6 linked regions of the Homo sapiens genome follow. The protein of the gene in region 3 interacts with the protein of the main gene of each other region in a pairwise test. Each region holds a gene or a part of one and is shown on either strand. Other genes may lie near its edges. The genes, in order: TSC22D2, ZNF438, ZNF143, SUOX, IQUB and EXOSC1.

Evidence for each region.
Region 1: the proteins of ZNF143 (region 3) and TSC22D2 interact in a two-hybrid assay, tested with the Homo sapiens proteins (one study listed by BioGRID).
Region 2: the proteins of ZNF143 (region 3) and ZNF438 interact in binary tests that used the Homo sapiens proteins (3 or more experiments, as listed by UniProt).
Region 4: the proteins of ZNF143 (region 3) and SUOX interact in binary tests that used the Homo sapiens proteins (3 or more experiments, as listed by UniProt).
Region 5: the proteins of ZNF143 (region 3) and IQUB interact in binary tests that used the Homo sapiens proteins (3 or more experiments, as listed by UniProt).
Region 6: the proteins of ZNF143 (region 3) and EXOSC1 interact in binary tests that used the Homo sapiens proteins (3 or more experiments, as listed by UniProt).

The regions. Positions count from the first base shown.
Region 1 is NC_000003.12:150,453,035-150,456,962, reverse strand, and holds part of TSC22D2 (TSC22 domain family protein 2), read right to left. Parts: intron 1-3,928. UniProt on the Homo sapiens protein: Reduces the level of nuclear PKM isoform M2 which results in repression of cyclin CCND1 transcription and reduced cell growth.
Region 2 is NC_000010.11:30,846,701-30,850,628, forward strand, and holds part of ZNF438 (zinc finger protein 438), read right to left. Parts: intron 3,668-3,928; coding exon 1,831-3,667; intron 1-1,830. UniProt on the Homo sapiens protein: Isoform 1 acts as a transcriptional repressor.
Region 3 is NC_000011.10:9,470,886-9,474,813, reverse strand, and holds part of ZNF143 (zinc finger protein 143), read right to left. Parts: intron 3,513-3,928; 5' UTR 3,509-3,512; coding exon of another isoform or gene 3,506-3,508; coding exon 3,394-3,505; intron 2,139-3,393; exon of another isoform or gene 2,138-2,138; coding exon 2,045-2,137; intron 1,038-2,044; exon of another isoform or gene 965-1,037; intron 874-964; coding exon 790-873; intron 265-789; coding exon 181-264; intron 1-180. UniProt on the Homo sapiens protein: Transcriptional activator. Activates the gene for selenocysteine tRNA (tRNAsec). Binds to the SPH motif of small nuclear RNA (snRNA) gene promoters. Participates in efficient U6 RNA polymerase III transcription via its interaction with CHD8.
Region 4 is NC_000012.12:56,000,276-56,003,429, reverse strand, and holds part of SUOX (sulfite oxidase, mitochondrial), read right to left. Parts: intron 1,219-3,154; 5' UTR 1,209-1,218; coding exon 1,159-1,208; intron 888-1,158; coding exon 710-887; intron 1-709. UniProt on the Homo sapiens protein: Catalyzes the oxidation of sulfite to sulfate, the terminal reaction in the oxidative degradation of sulfur-containing amino acids.
Region 5 is NC_000007.14:123,527,744-123,531,671, forward strand, and holds part of IQUB (IQ motif and ubiquitin-like domain-containing protein), read right to left. Parts: intron 609-3,928; exon of another isoform or gene 502-608; intron 1-501. UniProt on the Homo sapiens protein: Adapter protein that anchors the radial spoke 1 (RS1) complex to the A microtubule of outer doublet microtubules in axonemes. The triple radial spokes (RS1, RS2 and RS3) are required to modulate beating of the sperm flagellum.
Region 6 is NC_000010.11:97,435,862-97,439,789, reverse strand, and holds the end of EXOSC1 (exosome complex component CSL4), read left to right. Parts: intron 1-1,086; coding exon 1,087-1,120; coding exon of another isoform or gene 1,121-1,127; intron 1,128-2,039; coding exon 2,040-2,090; intron 2,091-2,514; coding exon 2,515-2,599; intron 2,600-3,238; coding exon 3,239-3,345; 3' UTR 3,346-3,881; downstream 3,882-3,928. UniProt on the Homo sapiens protein: Non-catalytic component of the RNA exosome complex which has 3'->5' exoribonuclease activity and participates in a multitude of cellular RNA processing and degradation events.

The sequences.
Region 1 (3,928 bases), on a different chromosome or scaffold from region 3:
AAATAGCTTATTCTGTTCTGACAATTTCAGTACTCAAAGCTCTCATTTCTAAAATGAAAGTCTCAGTAAATAGATGATTTCTACAGGTCCTTTGTAGTGCCAACATTTCTAATTTGCCTGTAATACATGTATGCTACTTTAAAACTAACTCTCAATTGTATTAAGAATTTCTCTGTTCAGTGGTTTTAAAAGGATACATTTTAAATGGGCAGTGTCTTCTCCGTATCTCTTAAATTTCTACATTAACCAACTATACATTCTAATTGCCTTTCATGTAGAAATTCCAATAATTACTTATTGTAGTAAAATTCAGATGATGGCTTGACTTTTTTTTTTCTAGTCCCTCCTCTTAGTAAGACTTTTCTGGTATAAGTTTTATACTTTAACATCTAGTTTTTTAAAAAAAACTTAATGGCTTCTAAAAATGGTTCAGAAAGTCTTTGGGTAGGATTGGTTAACAAGAAACTCAACATTCAGCCGGGCGTGGTGGCTCACGCTTGTAATCCCAGCACTTTGGGAGGCCAAGGAAGGTGGATCACTTGAGGTCAGGAGTTCCAGATCAGCCTGGCCAACGTGGTGAAAACCCATCTCTACTAAAAATACAAAAAAAATTAGCCAGGCTTGGGGCGGGTGCCTGTAATCAGCTACTCAGGAGGCTGAGGCAAGAGAATCACTTGAACCCAGGAGGCAGAGGCTGCAGTGAGCCGAGATCACGCCATTGCAATCCAGCCTGGGCAACAAGAGCAAAACTCCATCTCAAAAAAAAACAAAAAAAAAAAAAACAAAAAGAAACAACATTCTGGCAGACCTACATGTATTTGACTGTAGGTTACTTGCTGGCAAAAATCACCTATAAGGTATGTGTGGTTTAGATCAGTTCTTCTTGGGAATAACTGAAAAGTTATCCAGCCTGTAAGCACATTCCAAGTTCAAATATCACCTTAGCAATTGTATGATAATAACACAGAAGGCTAATTGTCCTCTTTGGTGGTTTATATTCTACCATGTATTAAGTAGTAAGAATAGCTGGAATTTATACCCTTTTATTGTTTTTTAATGAATTTTATTTCTAAAAACAGTTATTAGGTTTTTAAAAATTACTCTTGTAAAGAAAAATCTGATACTGTAGCTTATTGTATCAATACGAAAAGATAATTTTTTATATGTTACTAAATATTCTTCATAAAGTATACTCCACCTAAGATTTTAGTGCTAAAATACCTGGAAACTACTTTACTTTAGATGGTGTGGACCCATAATGTTGTATCAGATTGAGGCTCAGAAATATCCTGTCCTGTGATATCCTGCTATTCACTTCCTATGGGACATCAGCAAATCACCTATTTAACTTCCCTGGATCTGAGTTTCCCCATCTGTAAAACAAGGGGTTGATGTCAATGCCTCAATGGACTTTCCACTTCTAAATCCTTGAAATCTTGAATCATTACATGGGAAACTACGTTTGTTTATTTGAGCATTAACCACATTAATTACAGCATACTACCTTCACTTCTTGCTGCTACTATTTCTAAGATGAAAAGAGGTTTTGTATATCTAATATCTAGAAAGGATTTATGGATCATTAACAAATACTTTATATGTGCTGGGCTTTAAATGCTTTTAGTGAGCTGTGCAAAGTATGACTATATGTAACTATAAACTACAGAACCACTAAGTCAACCATAACGCTTTAGTATATACTTCAGTGCCAGATACCATGCAGACATATTCACCACAAATACTGAACACATTTTGGCAAAAAAGACGGTGACAGGCATTTAAATTAGTTTGCTTGGGAATCCCAGATTATACTTTCTATATTTTTATTGACATGACAAGGAAAGATTGAATTACTTTTAAGTCATGTCATGACTTAAATCATTTGATTCCTTCAACACATTTGGTTTAAATAGCACACCTTAAATACTAACTACAACATCAGTTTTATGTATTAACAAGCAGTAAAAAAAACAAAAATTACTGGGGTTTTTTTTTGATAATTAAAATCAGTCAGCGAGTTTTAGAATGATTCCCATAGCTAAGGAAGAATAGTTAGCATGCTATTCTTTGAATGCTGACCTAACAAACTCTTGTCCTAAGATCTCTTTTATGACAACAGAAGAAACAGGTTTGCAAGGTATAAATAGATCATGATGAAGATGTATCCCTTAAATGGTGTTAATATTTCAACTGTTAGGTGTTGTACTCTAATAGAATAAATCAGTGTCAAATATAATTACTACCACTATAGTGACCTTTAACTATCTTGAAGGCTATTATTCAAGAATTCTATAACCTACTGCAGGGGTCTCAAACTTTAGCATGCACCAGAATCATCTGGAGGTCTTGTTAAAACTCAGGTTGCTGGGCTCCCCCACTCAGAGTTTCTGATTCAGTAGGCATGGAACCAGGAATCTGCATTTCTAACAAGTTCCCAGATGATGTGGAATCTACTGTCTGACTATGCTTTGAGAACTGCTGGCTTACAAATGAAAGTTATAGGAGGAAAAATTAAGAAGCCTAATTCTATTTTTAAAACTTTTTAGCCTGGCATATAAAATTCTTTATGACTTTGACCTCTGCCTTATACAGTCTGTTTTCCTCTTATACTCCATCTGCCTATTGTGTTATGGTCTTATACAACTATTTGTAGTCTGTGGAACATATGTTCTCTCGGGTTTCCTTGGCTTTGCAGAAACTGCTCCCTCAGCTGGAAATGCTCACAGTTCCAATTCATCTGGCTATCTTAGACCTGTCCCTTAAGATGCTCCAGTGCCATCTCTTCTGTGATGCTGTTTGATTTTCTAAGGTAGAGCCAATTACTCCATCCTTTCTGGGGTCTACCAATCTTCGCAAACTTTTTATAGTGCAAAAAGGCAGAATAGCAAATTCTGGCTCCTCCATATACTCACTATATGAATTCTGGGAAATTATTTAACCTTTCTAGACCTCAGTTTTTTCATTTAAAATAAGGATTATATGCCAATTGTGAGGATTAAATGAGTTTACATAATGCATAGTACTTGGCACACTGAGCACTCAATACAGACAGTGATTACTTTGAGTATTGTAATACTACCACTGTTGATCCTATTAGATTGAGCTCTTTGAGAAAGGTTCCATAACTTCTTCATCTTTGTGAATAAGTGAATTCAGTGCTTAGCACATAGTAACTCAATGCATACTGATAGTAATTAGATATGATAGATTTGAAACAATTAATGGTTCATATGAGGAAGGCATTAAAATTTTTTGAGTTCAGATAAATCAGTTCTCAAAGTGTAGTCCCTGAACCAGAATCATCAGCATCACCTGGAAACTTGTCAGAAATGTAAATATTTGGACCCACCAAGACCTTGTTAGAAATGTAAATATTTGGACCCACCCCAGATTTACTCTTGGGGCGGGGCCCCGTAATCTATTTTAACAAACTCTCTAGGCGATTCAGATAGAAACTAAAGTATGAGAACCACTGCTTTAGCCATATTTACGATGGAGATACCAATATGGTAGTCTTAAGCAAATAAGAGACTATTTTATTTCAAGATCCCAGAATATGGTTTAAAAATACTGTTTCAATGAGGGTATCAAGATGTTTTCTATTATGTTCAAAGTTATCATAGTGAGATTTGACTCTTTTAAAATGAGAAAGATCAACTGAAGCAGAATCAATAATTTCCTTCCTTCACCTAATGTTATAATACTATATACCTTGTTTTCTTTTTAATTATTATATTCAGCACATTATATTTTGATGGTTTAACCAGTTTCCAAACTTAAGCTCCCTAAGAAAAGGCTTCCTGTCTTTACTTCCAGCACAAAGTATATATACCCGGTACCCTACAATGGTGGTAGTATAAATATTTCAGATTAGTGTGTATGTATAGATACATACTCAAACTGAAATAAGTCAATTTTAAATCAAGTG
Region 2 (3,928 bases), on a different chromosome or scaffold from region 3:
GAGCAGGCAGGAGCGCTCCTGCCCTCCCAGGCATCACTGTAGCTACCCTGCTGTGGCTGCAGATCCAGGCATCTCTGCACTCTCAGGGGTCCAGGAAGGCCCCTTTCCCCCCACGGGCTCAAGAAGCACCTGCTCCTGCTGCCTGGCTTCTCCCTGCTGTCAGCACCTGCTCCAATCTCAAAGCAAGGCTGGGGCTGAGCCTGGGCTCTGCTGTAACCTGGTTGGGTGTGCACACGCTTGAGGCAGTGCTGATATGCCCACCTCCTACCCCATTGGCCTGCTCCAGACTTTGGGTGCCAATAAGCATGGAAGGGAGGCTGAGGAAGGGGTGCTCAGGACAGCTCGGTGCCAGCCTGCAGGTGCCCCCTCAGCATGAACAGCCTGGGTGCCATAAACAGAAGCAGGGAGCAAAGAAGCTCCTGGGCAGAAAAGGGGAGGTCCCCGGTGAAGCCCCACCTTCAAGCCAGAGAAGCCCTGAAGCCTGGGGGCCAGGTTGCCAGTCATGTGGACTGGAGTGGGAACTTGTGGTGCTTTTCTGGGTCTGTCCATGACTGCCCATGGACCAACTGCACGCATTTCCTCTCCTCTGAGGCACATAAAAGCCCCGGACTTAGCCAGACTTGAAGAGACAATGGGACGACCAGTGGCAGAGAGGAGCTACCCTCTCTGCTGAGAGCACAAGAGATGACGGGGAAAACCTGCCTGCAGAGAGGAACTGCCCCCTGCAGTTCAACTCTGAGCTGTTCTATCACTCAATAAAGCTCCTCTTCATCTTGCTCACCCTCTACTTCTCTGTGTACCTCATTCTTCCTGAACGCAGGACAAGAACTTGAGACCTGCCAAATGGTGGGGCTAAGAGAGCTGTAACACAAACAGGCTGAAACACGCCTCTTGCTTGCCACACAGCAGGTGAAGAGAAGAGCTGCGGCCCTTTGGGGAGCTCTGTCCTGGGAGCCCCCTGAGCCAGGGCAGTGACTCCCTAGTCTCCAAGCTTCTGGGCAACATCATGTTCCTGGTGCCAACCGTGGAAGCTGCTTGTGATGTGCCTGGTCCAGCCACAGCCTTGCAAGGAGGTGGCACCTGGAGCTGCCTGGCCTGCAGCAGCAGCCGGCGTGCCTGCCTATGCGCAGTGGCCAGACCCCACGCTCACTCACACATCCCTCACCACTCTGTGCCTGGCTCGCCCTTGGCAGGCATGGGATCTAGGCCGGTAGCATGAGCTGAGTGCAGCCTGCTAGGTTCCAAGTGGGTGGAACGAGCCTAATGGGCCAGAGCAAAACTCAGGCCAAGGCGCCACTGGCCACAGAGGTTTCCGGCTGGTGAAATGACACCCCAAGGATCCCATAGCAATAATACCAGGAAGCAGTGCTTGCAAAAAGGAATGACACCAGAAAGAGTGAACCCGAACTGATGGGAAAAACAGGGCAAATGAAGAGGGTGGGGTCTGGGCACCTTAAGGTAGGGTCAACATGACAGACCCACCCACTCTGAGTCCCCAACCATGGGTCATGCCGCATTTTGGGGCAAATGATGCTGTTTAAAATAACGCAAATTCTGTGGATGTGATTTTGGGGGAAATTACTTGTAAAGACCACTGGAACTATATACAGTACTTTACTAGATTGGTTAGGGTAATTCCAAGTATGGATGATCAGAAACCAGAGAGAAACAAGATCATTCTTCACAGATCTAGGAGGTATACATAGCTACTTTATGAAATCTTAATCCTAGAGATGTTTTATAAACTCTCCTTTCTGAATATGAAATCTTCCCCTCTTCCCCAAATCAAAACAGACTCTCTTGCCAGGTCTCCATTACATTGGCACTCACCTCTCCAATGATCCCTCCATGCCTCGCACACTCATGTCTCTGTTCTTTGGTATGTCTCCTGGCTGCAGTTCACTGGGCGCAGGCTCAGTGCTGATCACAACCCTATGCACTTCTTTCAGATGGCCAAAATAGACTCGGATGTGGCCAAACACTTTTGCACAAAACTCACAACACATGAGTTTCTTCAGACGGTTCTCACCATGATGAAGTTTCATGTGTGTGCTCAGGCTGCCAGGACGTACATAGGACTTGCGACAAATCCGACAACTGTAAGGGCGTCTGTTGGTGTGTGTATTCATGTGGTCTCGAAGGTGCTGTTTGAACTGGAAGTGGTGGTTGCAGACGTGACATCTGTGCCAAGGCTTCTTAATGCCAGAGAATCCATTTCTGAACACGGAGCTGGGCTTAGGGGAAGAGCTGTTGTCTTGCTTACAGCCAAGATATTTAGGAGTGAGTGAATTATTTAACAAAACATCCTGTCCTAGGCCCCCAAGCATCTGGGACTGTAGTGTAGTTGGAGAAGCCAGGGAGGCCAAAGTGGGTATGACCATGATAGGTTTGGGCATAATGCTACGGTATTTTTTCAGGGTCCCCAGCTTTTGGTCTCTGAATTCTTGGGGATCATTTTTTACTCTTTCTTTACCATCTCTACACTTATTAATGATATATTTCCTCCTTTTTCCCTGAAATGCCAAAATTTCATCTGGTACCTTCCGTTTTCTTCCTTTTCTCTTTGCTGCTCCACTGTTCAGTTTTGTTTTGTGGTTAAGATCAAGTTTGGTGGGTGGACAAAAGGCACTTTCACAGGCACTCTGCTGTGACACTTGTGGAACAGGTAGCCTGCTTGCCACCTTGGTGGCTGCATTAAAGCCTTCTGTGGTGGAGGGTATCTTATCACAGTCGGCCTTAGGTCCTGGTAAAGAAAAACCTGCAATGTTAGCATCTGATTTGATTTTGTAAACCTCCATTGTCTTCATTCTTGAGTAGGGTGGGATTGGCAGTTTCCCTTTGGGGACTGAAGAGATCAACTGAACTGCATTGCCAAGAATGGTTGGTGATAAATTGGTCATGGTTTTTGCAAGATCAACTTGTTCTTTAAATTTTTCACTGGCAACAGCAGAAGGTTTACTAGATGTTATCTTGCTTACAAAGTGTGCTTTCCCTGAAAGAGCTGTGAGGTCCTGCTTGGCAGGCTCCTCTGGTGTGGATGATGCTGGGGTAGCAGGAGGGTTCAGACTGCCATGGGTGTTGGTCACTGGTGGTCTCAAGTCCCCATGGTCACTTCCATTGGTCAGCGCAGCTGTGCTAATGCTGGCTGGGGCTTGCTCTAGTGATGGTACTTCCTCAAATGGACTGGGTTTGTACAGGAGTTCAGGGTGGTGAGGTGGGGAAGGGGACATCTGAGGACACATTTGGGTTTGGGCAGGAGCTTTGCTACAGCCACTCTTAGGAAAGATCAGGATGGGTTTCTTTCTTGATGCTTTGCTATTTCTAGGGGGTTGATATCTAGGAATAGGAAGTTTCAGGTTTTCAGGTAGGGACATTCTGGGTTTCTGAATTGGCTGAGCTGAGGCAACATGTGGCAGAGCAACAAGAGAAAATGTCCCCTCCTGGCCAGCAACCTGCATCAGGGCATAGTTCTGGGTGGACATCCCCAGCAGCTTGGAGTTGATGGAGGGTCCCAGATTCACCTGATCAGAGCGTGATGGTGAATGACATGGCAGCATTCTGGACGTTAGGACTTTGGGCACAATTTTTGGTGCAATGGTCCTAAACTGACTCTTATTCTGCAAACCTTTCCTACTCTGTATTGTTCCAGAAGGGATGTTTGATTCACCTGCAATGACAATAAAATATAAAGAGTTACTGTATGTAACTGTTCTGTTAGTGATACTTCAAACAACAAGCATCTTATTTACTCTGCCCAGAACAGATTCCTTGACCTACCTCCAAGCCTTCTGGGCAAAATCTTGTGTCCCTCAAGACCAGCTTGAAGATCAATTCCTGCCTACCTTCCCCAAGGATTTCTATACTTATCTATGGTTCCTTAGCTCCTATTATGTTATTTACCATTTTCCATAATAATTTATGTGTTTAT
Region 3 (3,928 bases):
GGACAGCTCAAATTGTAGGAAAATTTTTCCTTAAATCATGCTTAAATCTGCCACCTTGTACTTTAATGAATAAATACAATTCTTTCCCATGACAACAATTCAGAAGCTAAACACAGGTCTTCTTTCCCCCACCACTCCCACTTCTCCCTTATTTTATTCATACTTTCAAAGTTATTTTACCTTTGGAGGTGTGGTGAATAAATGCTGTGGTACCATCTTCTAACTGTACTGCTTGACCATCCTCTAGACGCAAACTGTCCCCTGCTCAAGAACAATGCTTACATTTAGATCTCATGTTTTCTAGCACATTCCAATTAACTCACTTAGCAACAAGAGTCAATAAACCATTAACACATTATAACAATCTATACTTGCTTCATGAGTCTTTGAACATTTAAGTAAGTTCAGTAAAGCTTCCCTGCGTCAGTGTTTAAAGGTAAAAAGACATTAGAATATTGGTTTTAGAAATATACACCAGTATTAAAGAGAGTTGAAAGAAGGGGAAAAATGAAGAAAATGAGAGACATGTAAGATTCAGCTCAAAAAACAGAAACATTCACTCAGGACTGTTACTCATTTATCTCCACAGTGCAGTCCAGTAACTTCTTTTCCATTATCTTTACGAGAAAGTCTTGGTTAAGATCCACTCTGTGGCATCTATAATCTCCCTTTACAGAAGGAGGACTTGAGAACAAGACCAAGTTTAGGTAGTAAGAGGGAGCTGCAGGTAGCAAATACTAAAAGCTGAGAATTAAAATGGTTTCCCGTGCTGTTATCTTAAATACTTACTACTTTTAGGTATGGGTACATGTTGAACATAGGCCGCAGAACCATCTTCCAACTGAATGACCTGGCCATCTATGAGTTTTGCATCTATAACAAAAGATTCAAGACAATAAATTGGCACAAACAAAAATTTTAAACTTTATACAATTTCAAAATGATATCAACTATAAAAACATACACAACTTAAGCTCGTGTTCATCTTGATTCTTCCCTCAATGTTCTGAGGCAATTCAATAACACATCCAGTGATCCTACAGAAAGCAGAAAATCCTCCCTCAGCCATCCTTCCTCCCCTGCAATTTTCAATTAGATGAGGTCAAGAGGAAGAGTGGCTCATCACAGCAGGCTACATGAGTTGGACTGCTTTATACCTTTCAGAGTCACTTAGAATCAGTGACCATGACCAGTGGGGAGTTGAAGCTGGGAAGACAGACAGATTATGTCAGTGTATGTGAGATCATCTGTCATTCTCATCCCTGAGGGCTATAAGACCCCTGTTTATGTATGCATGTGCTCAGTAGGTTTCCATAGAAACAAAGAGTTTTTGAGGACTTGGCTGTTTCCTGGAGCAAAGCAAACACTAATTCAGAGACAATGTCAGATAAGCAAAACCAAATGTCTTTTTTTTTTTTTTTTGAGACAGAGTTTTGCTCTAGTTGCCCAGGCCGGAGTGCAATGGCGTGATCTCGGCTCACTGCAACCTCTGCCTCCCGGGTTCAAGCGACTCTCCTGCCTCAGCCTCCTGAGTAGCTGGGATTACAGGCATGCGCCACCATGCCCAGCTAATTTTGTATTTTTATTACAGAAAACGGTTTCTCCATGTTGGTCAGGCTGGTCTCGAACTCCCGACCTCAGGTGATCTGCCCGCCTCGGCCTTCCAAAGCGTTGGGATTACAGGCGTGAACCACCATGCCCGGCCCCAAATGTCTTTACTCTTACAGGTATTTGGTAAAAATACGAAATAATGACCCAAGGTAAAGAAGCAAGAAAGGTCTTACTAGAAAATAGTAAGACATACTCCCTGCTCTCCTCTCTCCCACTAATTTTGATATCCCAGGGTATCTTCCAAATATCTCAAAGGACTATTCCAAATTATAAAAAAAAAAAAAAAAAGAATTAAACTGAAATGACTTAAAATCATCATATGCAATACAGCATCTTTAGGAGACATAGGAAAGGTGGTATAGCTTCTAGGTGCTCCAACTCACAGGTTATAAATCACTGGTATTAACCAATCAGCCATATGTGAGGCACATACCTTTAGAATTGTGTTGTATGTAAGCAGTAGAACCATCTGCAAGTGTTACTGCTTGCAAGCTTACGCCTTCCATATTTTCTAAGTTGTCACCATCTATTACAAAAAAATCAATATTTTCTTTAGACAGCTAGCATATGGACATGCTGATTAATTTTTTTTTCAAATAAAGATCAGAAAAAAGGTAAACTGCTTAACTCAGACTCAAAATGAGATTTAGCGGCCGGGTGCAGTGGCTCACGCCTGTAATCACGGCACTTTGGGAGGCCAAGGCAAGTGGATCATGAGGTCAGAAGTTCGACACCAGCCTGGCCAATGAGGTGAAACCCCGTCTCTACTAAAAATATAAAAATTAGTCGGGCGCGGTGGCATGCACCTTGTAGTCCCAGCTACTTGGGAGGCTGAGGCAGAAGAATCGCTTGAACCCAGGAGGCAGAGGTTGCAGTGAGCCGAGATTGTGCCACTGCCCTCCAGCCTGGGCGACAGAGCCAGACTCCGTCTCAAAAAAAAGAAAAAAAGTGAGATTTAGCACTTACCAAAAACAGGCTGGGAACAATGGCTCATGCCTGTAATCCCAGCACTTTTGGAGGCTGAGGTGGGTGGATGGCTTGAGCCCAGGAGTTTGAGACCAGCCTGGGCAACATGGTGAAACCCTGTCTCTACTAAAAATAAAATAATTAGCTGGGCACGCTGGTGGGTGCCTGTAGTCTCAGCTACTTGGGAGGCTGAGGTGACAGGATGTCTTAAGCCAGAAGGCTGAGGCTACAGTGAGCCGTGATCATACCACTGCACTCCAGCCTGGGCGATAAAGCAAGACCTTGTCTCAAAAAAAAAAAACAAAAGAAAAGAAAAGAAAAAGAAAAAGAAAAAAAAAATTCCCTGCCCTCCTGTACCCACACCAAGATAAAAAATACACATAGAGGCTGGGCGCAATGGCTCATGCCTGTAATCCCAGCACTTTGGGAGGCCGAAGCAGGTTGATTACCTGAGGTCAGGAGTTTGAGACCAGCCTGGCCAACGTGGTGAAACCCCGTCTCTACTAAAAATACAAAATTAGCCGGACGTGGTGGCACATGCCTGTAATCCCAGCTACTCGGGAGGCTGAGGCAGGAGAATCACTTGGACTTGGGAGGCAGAGGTTGCAGTGAGCCGAGAGCAGACCATCGCACTCCAGCCTGGGCGACAAGAGTAAAACTCCGTCCCGTTTCAAAAAAAAAAACACCAAAACACCTCATAAAAAGACCTAGGTTTATATTGTTTTCTGCTAAATCAGGAACTAGGAAGTTGTAAATTTTTTTTCTTTTAAGATAAATGATATTTTCAAACGCATCCCTTCAAACACAACTGCTCACCTGCCACGGTGACTGCCTCTGTCAAGCACAGCGTAACATGTTGCGCCTCCATCCCTCCTCCAGGAAACTCTGTCATTCCCTGAGAATCTCGATTTATTTGGGCTAACAACATCTTCTACCTTGAAGAAAAATAAAGACACTTGGGAACAAAGAATGATACATGTGAAATGAAAGTTACAAAGAATATTTATGAACCACAAAAAGCTGCTGAGGATGTAATGGTGTTGGAAATAAGATGAAATTTCACTCAATATGTAGGGTAAGAGTATTAGCCCAAAGTCCAAGGCATGCTTCTTATAATTCAACAATTCAAACTGATGGGCACAATTTGTCAGTGCGCTTAGCAACTTAGAAGTACACTGACGAATTGTGCCCATCAGTTTCATATGATCTCTAGAATTCCCATAATTAGAGTCCTTTGGGTTTAGCATTGCTGAGGATTCCCACTTACAATGTGTCAGCATATTTTGTTGACTTAATCTTCAGAAATCTACCCCGAATCTGGCTACCTCTCACAACCTTCACCAGTACTTCC
Region 4 (3,154 bases), on a different chromosome or scaffold from region 3:
ATTAGCTGGGCATGGTGGTGCATGCCTGTAATCCCAGCTACTTGGGAGGCTGAGGCAGGAGAATCACTTGAACCCGGGAGGTGGAGGTTGTGGTGAGCTGAGATCATGCCATTGCACTCCAGCCTGGGCAACAAGAGTGAAACTCCATCTCAAAAAAAAAAAAAAGAAAAAATGAAGAAGAATAAGAAGAAATCACTTGAGCTCACCCTGACCCAACCCACGGTGTTGGCCACTGGGAAGCGAAGGTAGCAGATTAGCAGATTTCATCTCCACTGTGCATGAAGACTGCGTCACTGTGAACTCTGTGGTAACTACAAGAACATGGGTCACAGCCTGGGTTGCCTGTGGAGTTTACTAGGACTGATTCCTTTATTCTGACAATTTTTTTTTTTTTTTTGAGATGGAGTCTCACTCTGTCACCCAGGCTGGAGAGCAGTGGCCTGATCTTGATCTTGGCTCACTGCAGACTTAGCCTCCTGGGTTTAAGTGATTCTTGTGTCTCAGCCTCTCAAGTAGCTGAGATTACAGGTATGTACCACCACACCTGGCTAATTTTTACTAGAGATGGGGTTTTGCCATGTTGCCCAGGCTGGTCTCAAACTCCTAACCTCAAGTGACCCACCCACCTTGGCCTCCTATAGTGCTGGGATAACAGGCGTGAGCCACTGCACCCAGTCTGTTCTGACAATGAAGCACTTTCCCTACTTACCCTACACCGATGGTCCTGATAGGCCAACACTGCACCGAGACCTAATAGGGTCCCCATGACTCTCCATCCCTGGGTGCTGGAGTTATCACCAGAGAAGGTGAGGCTGGGGCGCTGGGGCTGAAATGAATCATTTGTGGAGCAGGCCTGAATGCAGATCCTTGAGGGGATTGACTTGAGTCTGGAAGAGAGGTCGGTCTTAGTAGCACGTATGGTCATGTGAAAGGGCTAGTGAAGGCTTGGGGTCTACTTCTTTCTCCCTGGTTGGCCATTGGTTCCTTAAGTTGGAACTTAGTTTCTCCAGGGATAGGTGGGAAAAGTGGGATCTGGCTTTCTCTGTCCTCCCTGGACACACTCTCTCAACTGTCTTATTTGCAAGGTATGACATTGTAAAAGACACTAAGGGTGGCAGATAGGGGCTAGGAGGCAAGTCCTGGGATGGGCTGGCCTACCTGCAGGCCTGTTGGAGCCTGAGGACCACAGCTCTGTGCAGCAGCAGCATTGTAGCAGACCTGTAGAAGGAAGATTCTGGGATCAAGATAGGGAGACCCTGGGAGGGGATATTAGGGAGGCCTAAGGGAATGGGTGAGAGGAAGACACAGAGAAGGTCAGCAAGGAGCTTTCTGGGCAAGTGAGGAGTCTTGAGAGTGGGAGTCCAAATGGGCCCTTAGAGAAAACTTGGAGCACTTCAGAGACAGACTGTGCTGACAGGATGGCAGGTAATGCGGGTGGGGAATGGGGTAGGAGGGATGGGTGCTTCTAGAATCAGAATCACCTTTCTCCCATCTTCCATTCTGAACTTTGTCCACCATAGAGAACGATGCCTGGGGCGAAGGGCCTAAAGGACCGAAACCAAATGTCTACTGGCCAGATTATTATTTCTGAAGTCAGCAGAGGACAACTGTGGGTCAGACTGACTTAAACAGGGATAAAAAAGTGAAAAAAAAGTAGTGACAGCCTAAATGGGTGAAGAAGCCCAGATTCTGGGGGCAAAATGCCTTGGGTTTGTGAAACTGGATCTCTTGTTATTCATTAACCAGCCCGATTTCCTGAGCAAGATTCCAAGCCGTTCTGAACTTGCTTCCTCATCTCTGAAATGACATCTGCCTAGCAGAGCTAACATGAAGAGCCAACAAGTACAGTAGTACCCCCTTATCCACTGGGGATATGTTCTACGACCCCCAGTAGATGTTTGAAACCACAGATTGCACCAAACCCTATATTACTGTTTTTTCCCCCATACATACATACCTCTTATAGTTTAATTACTAAATTACCCACAGTAAGAGATTAACAACAATGCCCGGCGCAGTGGCTCACGTCTGTAATCCCAGCACTTTGGGAGGCTGAGGCGGGCAAATCACCTGAGGTCAGGAGTTTGAGACCAGCCTGGCCAAAATGGGGAAAACCTGTCTCTACAAAAATTCAAAAATAAGCCAGGCATGGTGACACGTGCCTGTAACCCCAGCTACTCGGGAGGCTGAGGCAGGAGAATCACCTGAACCTGGGAGGTGGAGGTTGCAGTGAGCTGAGATCACGCCACTGCTCTCCAGTCTGGGCAACAGAGAGAGACTCCATCTCAAAAAAAAAAAAAAAAAAAAAAAAGAGAGATTAACAACAATAACAAAATAGAAAAATTAGCCCGGCGCAGTGGCTTACGCCTGTAATCCCAGCACTTTGGGAGGCTGAGACGGGCAGATCACGATGTCAGGAGATCGAAACCATCCTGGCTAACGCGGCGAAACCTCATCTCTACTAAAAATAGAAAAAAAAAAATTAGCCGGGCTTGGCGGCGGGCGCCTGTAGTCCCTGCTACTCCGGAGACAGGAGAATGGCGTGAACCCAGGAGGCGGAGGTTGCAGTGAGCCGAGATCGCGCCACTGCACTCCAGCCTGGGCGACAGAGTGAGACTCCGTCTCAAACGTCTCAAAAAAAAAACAAAGAAAAAGAAAAAAATTATAACATTATACTGTAATAAAAGAGCTGGGTGTGGTGGCTCACCCTTATAATCCTAGTGAGAAGTGACATTGTGCTGGCAGTCCTCACAGCCCTTGCTCACTCTCGGTGCCTCCTCTGCCTGGGCTCCCACTTTGGCGGCACTTGAGGAGCCCTTCAGCTCGCCGCTGCACTGTGGGAGCCCCTTTCTGGGCTGGCCAAGGCCAGAGTCGGCTCCCTCAGCTTGCAGGGAGGTGTGGAGGGAGAGGTGCGAGCGGGAACCGGGGCTGAGCGCGGAGCTTGCGGGCCAGCTGGAGTTCCGGGTGGGCGTGGGCTTGGCAGGCCCCGCACACGGAGCAGCCGGCTGGCCCTGCCGGCCCCGGGCAATGAGGGGCTTACCACCTGGGCCAGCAGCTGCGGAGGGTGTACTGGGTCCCCCAGCAGTGCCGGCCCACCAGCGCTGCGCTCGATTTCTCGCCGGGCCTTAGCTGCCTCCCCGCGGGGCAGGGCTCG
Region 5 (3,928 bases), on a different chromosome or scaffold from region 3:
TGCAGAGTTTACTGCTGTCTTTTTGTTTGTCTGTGCCCTGCCCCCAGAGGTGGAGCCTACAGAGGCAGGCAGGCCTCCTTGAGCTGTGGTGGGCTCCACCCAGTTGGAGCTTCCCAGCTGCTTTGTTTACCTAAGCAAGCCTGAGCAATGGCGGGCGCCCCTCCCCCAGCCTCGCTGCCGCCTTGCAGTTTGATCTCAGACTGCTGTGCTAGCAATTAGCGAGACTCCGTGGGCGTAGGACCCTCCGAGCCGGGTGGGGGATATAATCTCCTGGTCCGCCGTTTTTTAAGCCTGTCGGAAAAGCGCAGTATTCGGGTGGGAGTGACCCGATTTTCCAGGTGCCGTCTGTCACCACTTTCTTTGACTAGGAAAGGGAACTCCCTGACCCCTTGCGCTTCCCAAGTGAGGCAATGCCTCGCCCTGCTTCGGCTCGCGCACGGTGCACGCACCCACTGACCTGCGCCCACTGTCTGGCACTCCCTAGTGAGATGAACCCTGTACCTCAGATGGAAATGCAGAAATCACCCGTCTTCTGCGTCGCTCACGCTGGGAGCTGTTGACCAGAGCTATTCCTATTTGGACATCTTGACTCCTCCCCGAAAAAAATACTTTTAAAATAAAGCATAATATTAGCAAATACTTATACCAAATTATTTAATTCTCACAGATGATATCATTATGCCCATTTTACAGATAAAGAAATTAGCACAGAGAGGTTAAGCAATATTTTCAAGAACCCAGAGCTAGTAGGCAGTATATCTGGGATCCAAATCCAGGCAGTCTGGATCCAGAACCCATGCCCTTAACCACTTAACTGTGCTGTATCTCAGTGTAGGAGTCCATGGGGGATTGGGAGGAGAACAGAAAAGGGGTCCTGGTGATGAAGAAAAAGTCTAGAAACTGATCTCCCTGCAGATGAAAAAGCTAAGACCCAGGAATGCCTCATGGTAGGTTAGTGGTAGTCAGATCCAGAATTTAACTAACAATTTTGCCATCAGATATATTATCAGAGAATGTCTTTTATTCTTAAGTGACAAACATGACTATGATTTAAAATAGAGTAAAAAATATTCAGCAGATTTTTTTTCACCCATCTAGAACAAGGAGCTAATTTTATTGGTTCCTAATACCCCCTCATATGTACATATTAATATGCTCTACTTGCATACATATGTGTAAACTCTCACTGCAGCAAATATTAAATGTAAATAACAAAGTACACATATTAAAAGTGTGAAATGTAAAATGTGATCTTCCAACCCAGTTTGGAAAGCTACAGTTGGAAAAGACTTTTCAAAATCATTTTTTCATTATTGTTATCATTCATTTTGTTGTTGTTTTTAAGAGAGTAATATGTGCTTACTAGAAAAAAAACTAACAGAATAGAAGGGGATAAAATAAGAAGTAAAAGTATTTCAGACATGCTAATTTTATTTCTCATTGTTAGGCAGTTTATCTTTCCAGGAATTGTCTATAAAGCTACAATTATATAATATATATACATTTAAATTTGTTTATGATCATATCAATGTCTTTCATAAACTATATTTCTGTTTATTTTTAAACTTTAATACTATTTTATGACTTTTTATAATACGTGCTTAACATTTATTTTTATGTAAAATACGATTCTGCCGCATTCTTTTCAACAACTTCACAGTAACTTCTTTGCAAGGCTAAGCCACATGGTAGTCAACTGTTGTTCATTGATGGACATTTAAGCTGTCTCTAGTGTTTTTTTTTTGTTTTAATAGGATAATTTATTTTTTAAGAATCAGTTTTTAAAGTTATGTTAAAGATCGAACTTTTAAATGCATGCAATTATATATAAACAATAATCTATATTAATTTTTAAATTTTCTGCTGGATGCAGTGGCTCATGCCTGTAATCCCAGCGCTTTGGGAGTCTAAAGTGGGCGGATCTTGAGGTCAGGAGTTGGGAGGCCAGCCTGGCCAACATAGTGAAACCCTGTCTCTACTTAAAAAAAAAAAAAAAAAAAAAAAAAAACAGGCTAGGTGCGGTGGCTCATGCCTGTAATCCCAGCACTTTGGGAGGCTGAGCAGACGGATCACAAGGTCAGGAGATCAAGACCATCCTGGCCAACATGATAAAACCCTGTGTCTACCAAAAATACAAAAATTAGCTGGGCGTGGTGGCATGTGCCTGTAATCCCAGCTACTCGGGAGGCTGAGGCAGGAGAATTGCTTGAACCAGGGAGTTGGAGGTTGCAGTGAGCCAAGATTGCACCACTGCACTCCAGCCTGGCGACAGAGCCAGACTCCATCTCAAAAAGAAAACAAAACAAAATACAAAAATCAGCTGGGAGTGGTGGCAGGAGCCTGCAATCGCAGCTATTGGGGAGGCTGAAACACGGATCACTTGAACCTGGAAGGCAGAGGTTGCAATGAGATGAGATCATGCCACTGCATTCCAGCCTGGGCAACAGAGCAAGACTCCATCTCAACCGGTACAGTGGCTCACGCCTGATCGAGACCATCCCGGCCAACATGGTGAAACCCCGTCTCTACTAAAATACAAAAAATTAGCCGGGCATGGTGGCAGGCACCTGTAGTCCCAGCTACTCGGGAAGCTGAGGCAGGAGAATCGCTTCAACCTGGAAGGCGGAGGTTGCAGTGAGCTGAGATAGCGCCACTGCACTCCAGCCTGGCGACAGAGGGAGACTCTGAAAAAAAACAAAAAACCAAAAACAAAACAACAACAAACAACAACAACAACACCAAAAAACCCTCCAACTCAAAAAATAAAAAAATTTAAAAAAGCACTTTTTAATTTTCAGGGAAAAAAAATCTAAGGCTGGTGTTCACAATGTCAATTTTATTTATGGTTTGTTCTCACTATAAGCTTCCCTGTAATCCATTTCTACCCATTTTTTACTCTGCACAAACTTTTTACCTTTTTGCTCTTTGATTTTTTTTTTTTTTTTTTTTTGAGATGGAGTTTCACTCTTTTTGCCCAGGCTGGAGTGAAGTGGCGCGATCTTGGCTTACTGCAAACTCCACCTCCCAGATTCAAGCAATTCTCCTGCCTCAGCCTCCCCAGTAGCTCAGATTATAGGCACCCCCCACCATGCCTGGCCAATTTTTGTATTTTTAGCAGAGACGGGGTTTCACCATGTTGGCCAGGCTGGTCTCAAACTCCTGACCTCAGGTGCTCCGCCCGCCTCGGCCACCCAAAATGCTGGGATTAGGCTGCTCTTTGAGAGCTTTACAAATTTATTTAATCCTTACAATGACTCTGAGGTAGATCTTCTTGTCTCTGTAGATAGGAAAACTGGAACTGTCAAGAAACTTGCTTAAGATCACAGAGTGCATTAGGTTCGGATCCATAATCAAATTGGAAAAAAAGAAAAACACAAAGAACAATTAAGACTCCAAAGCCCTAATGCATAGTCTTTGTATCCTATCACACTGTGGCATTATATATATAAAACAAAAAACTTTATAATAAAGAGAAATGTATTTTCCAAACTGTGGTTCTCCAGATAACAATGTGTCTCCGTGAGGACCATATAGTAAATACATCCCATAAAAAATGATTACCAACCAAAAGCTTGCAATTAATGTTCCAACTAAAGAAAAAGACTCAAAGTAAAAGCATCAGCTATCCTAGGTACTGCTTGGAGGCAACACCAAACACGACACATAAATCATTGTTGAAAAAAACCGTAAAACATAATGCTGGGTATTTAGTTATGTTGAATGCTAAAACTAATCTTTCCTTAACTAAAGGTCTCCGTCAAATGAAAAGTGTATTTTAGTCAAGTCAGGATTTCTGTTTTGCAAACTCAAAGTCTTATATTATTAAGCATATATTCAGGTTATTTATTTTCCTGATCATAATTTTCAAATCAAATTAAGATCAAACTCCACTGACCGTCAGGTACTGTATATTCTCATTTTGATAAAT
Region 6 (3,928 bases), on a different chromosome or scaffold from region 3:
GTGGTTCTGTAGTGCAGCAGTCCCCAACCTTTTTGGCACCAGGGACCAGTTTCTTGGAAGACAGTTTTTCCACAGACCATGGAGGGGGTGGTTGCAGAATGATTCAAGTGCATTACATTTATGGTGCACTTTATTTCTGTTATTATTACACTGTAATATATAATGAAATAATTATACAGCTCACCATAATATAGAATCAGCGGGAGCCCTGAGTTTGTTTCCCTGCAATTCGATGGTCCCATCTGGGGGTGATGGGAGACAGTGACAGATCATCAGGCATTAGATTCTCATAAGGAGTGGGCAGCCTAGCTCCCTCATATGTGCAGTTCACAATAGGGTTCATACTTCTATGAGAATCTAATGCCCACTTCGATCTGACAGGAGGCGGAGCTCAGGCAGTAATGTATGCGATTGGGAAGCAGCTGTAAATACAGATGAAGCTTGCCTGCCACTCACTTCCTTCTATGCAGCCCGGTTCCTCACAGGCCACCAGAAGTTGGGGGCCCTTGCTATAGTGCTTCTGTTCAAGCCCTGAGGCAACGAAATTCCTTATCCTTTCTTGCCAAATCCGATCTGCCTTTATCTAATCAGAGGTATTGATACTGCCTCTCCATGTGGTCTGAGGATGCTTCTCCACCCTGCTCCTCTGGGTAGCAGCTGTGTCCCATTTACAACTTGTTCTGTCTGTTCTTGTAGCTCTTTATTTACTAGGAATCTACAGAATAATTCTTTCTCACAGGCTGGGCAAGGTGACTCATGCCTGTAATCCCAGCACTTTGGGAAGCTGAGGCGGGTGGATCACCTGAGGTCAGGAGTTCAAGACCAGCCTGGCCAACATGGTGAAACCCCATCTCTACTAAAAATACAAAAAACTAGCTGGGCATGGCGGACGTGCCTGTAATTCCAGCTGCTTGAGAGGCTGAGGCACGAGAATTGCTTGAACCCAGGAGGCGGAGGTTGCAGTGAGCAAAATTGCGCCACTGTACTCCAGCCTGGGTGACAGAGGGAGACTCTGTCTCAAAAAAAAAAAAAAAAAAAATTCTTTCTCACAGGTAATTAATCTTTCTGTTAATTCTTTTTTTATAGCAAGGAAGATGTCCGAGCAACTGAAAAAGACAAGGTTGTTGGTTGGTTCTTTTTTTTTAATGGCTTTACGTATCTCAATCCCTTAAAAGTATTATCTCAGGCCAGGCATGGTCACACACACCCGTAATCCCAGTACTTTGGGAGGCTGAGGCGGGAGGATCACTTGAGTCCAGGACTTCAAGACCAGCCCTGGCAACATAGCGAGACCCTGTCTCTACAAAAATTTTAAAAATTCAAAAATTGGCCAGGCATGGTAGCTCATGCCTGTAGTCCCAGCTGCTTGAGAGGATGTGGCTGGAGGATTGCTTGAGCCCAGGAGTTTGAGGTTAAGTGGTGGCACGCACCTGTAGTCCTAGCTACTTGGGAGGCTGAGGCAGGAGGATCCCTTGGTCCAGCAGTCCAAGGCTGCAGTGAGCTACCATTGCATCACTGCACTCCAGCCTGGGTGACACAGTGGGATCCCACCTCTTAAAAAAAAAGAAAAAAGGGCCGGGTGCAGTGGATCACACCTGTAATCCCAGCTCTTTGGGAGGCCAAGGTGGGCGGATCACAAGGTCAGGAGTTCAAGACCAGCCTGACCAACATGGTGAAACCCCGTCTCTACTAAAAATATAAAAACTAGCCTGTGTCGTGCCATGCACCTATAATCCCAGCTACTCAGGAGGCTGAGGCAGGAGAATCGCTTGAACCCGGGAGGCAGAGGTTGCAGTGAGCCGAGATCGCACCACTGCACTCCAGTGTGGGCGACAGAGCGAGACTCCATCTCAAAAAAAAAAAATTTTCATTTGTATGATAATACTGTAGAAGCAATTAAAAGTTCTTGACTTGACATGAGTAATGATGATTTCTACCCTCCAGGATTAGAAAGTAGATTGGCTTTACCAGAAGCGTTCACAGTTTCATATAGACCCAGTCTAGAGCTTTCACTTAACATTCCTGTTCTTTCTTTACAGGTTGAAATTTATAAGAGTTTCCGCCCAGGTGACATTGTCTTGGCCAAAGTGGTATCCTTTATTCCCAGCAGACTTCTGGTCCTTTGTCAAAAGAAGAGAAGGAGGCCGGGTGTGGTGGCTCATGCCTGTAATCCCAGCACTTTCGGAGGCCAGGGCGGGTGGATCACCTGAGGTCAGGAGTTCGAGACCAGCCTGGACAACATGGTGAAACCCTGTCTCTACTAAAAATACAAAAATTAGCTGGGCGTGGTGGCACATGCCTGTAATCCCAGCTATTCGGGAAGCTGAGGCAGGAGAACCGCTTGAACCTGTGAGGCAGAGGTTGTGAACTGATATCACGCCACCGCACTCCAGCCTGGTTAACGGAGCAAGACTCCATCTCAGAAAAAAAAAAAGGTAGAAAAACAACTCAGGTGGCTAAGGTGGGGGAAGACTTCTAACTCCTCATTTTCCTTCACCGGTGTTATGTGACTAGATCTCCTTAGGTGATGCACAGTCCAACTACCTGCTAACCACCGCCGAGAACGAGCTGGGAGTGGTGGTAGCCCACAGTGAGTCAGGTGAGATGGCCTTGTTTCCACATCCTTACTTTCCCTGGATCTATGGTTTGGGATAAATCCATTGTTTTTCCTGGTTTCCCTTATCTGGGAAGCAGTATGGCTATAGATATTTCCCTCTGAGATTAGAATGATTATTTTTTTCTTTTTTGCTTGGTGCTGGTGGTGGTGGTTGTTTGAGACAGGGTCTCACTTTGTCGAGGAGGCTGGAGTGCAGTGGTGCCATCTCCACTCACCACAGCCTCCACCTCCTTGGTTCAAGCAATTCTTGTCACCCAAGTAGCTGGGATTACAGACACACGCCACCACACCTAGCTAATTTTTGTATTTTTAGTAGAGACAGGGTTTCGCCATGTTGGCCAGGCTGGTCTCAAACTCCTGGCCTCAAATGATCTGCCCGCCTTGGCCTCCCAAAGTGCTGGGATTACAGGTGTGAGCCACCACGCCCAGCCTGATTCTCCTTATATAAATCCAAGGAAACGGGACTCACTTCATAAGTCAGTAGAATGAACAAAGTTTTTTCTTTATGAGTTGAGGTTCAGTAGGAAGCTTGGTGGCACTTCAGCTTCATACCCAGCATAAAAGAGGAGTCGCAGGCAAATCTTTGGGGTCTGGGCTCCACCACCAGCTTTTCCCTTCCAGGTATCCAGATGGTTCCCATCAGCTGGTGTGAGATGCAGTGCCCTAAGACCCACACTAAAGAATTCCGGAAAGTAGCCCGAGTACAACCCGAATTCTTGCAGACCTAAGAAGCCACTTTTTACCCTATGGAAGGGGGTAAGCTGTTCCTGAGTATAACACCAAGATGCTGCTGTCTTTATTCAAACACCTGGCGTCGGCCAACAGCCACTTCCAGAAAAATCTTCCAGTTTACGCTGTAGATGGAACATGTTTCTGTGAACCTATCAGTGGATTTCATTCTCTTGAGTAATAAATCTTATCTTTTCAAGGCACCAACAAACAAAACTGTGATATTGGAAATAGCCTATCCCTCCTGACAGTCCTTATAAATACATATTTTTTGCTATGATAAAACTTTTTTACTAAAAGGATGTTATAGAGTCTGTTGTCTTAAGCAGAGAAAGACATCTAAATGGTGTCAGGACATTTCAGTACTTCTGCTTATTGAGTACTTACTGTGCTAGGCACTGAGTCAGGTGCTTTACATACGTCCCCTTCATTTAGGTACATTGTGATTTAATGAAAATTTGAGGACACGTGGTGATACAGATAGCATGTGAGGCAGGCATGGTGGCTCATGTTTGTAAATCCCAGCACTTTGGGAGGCCGAGTTGGGTTGAAGTCAGGAGTTTGAGACCAGCCTGGCCAACA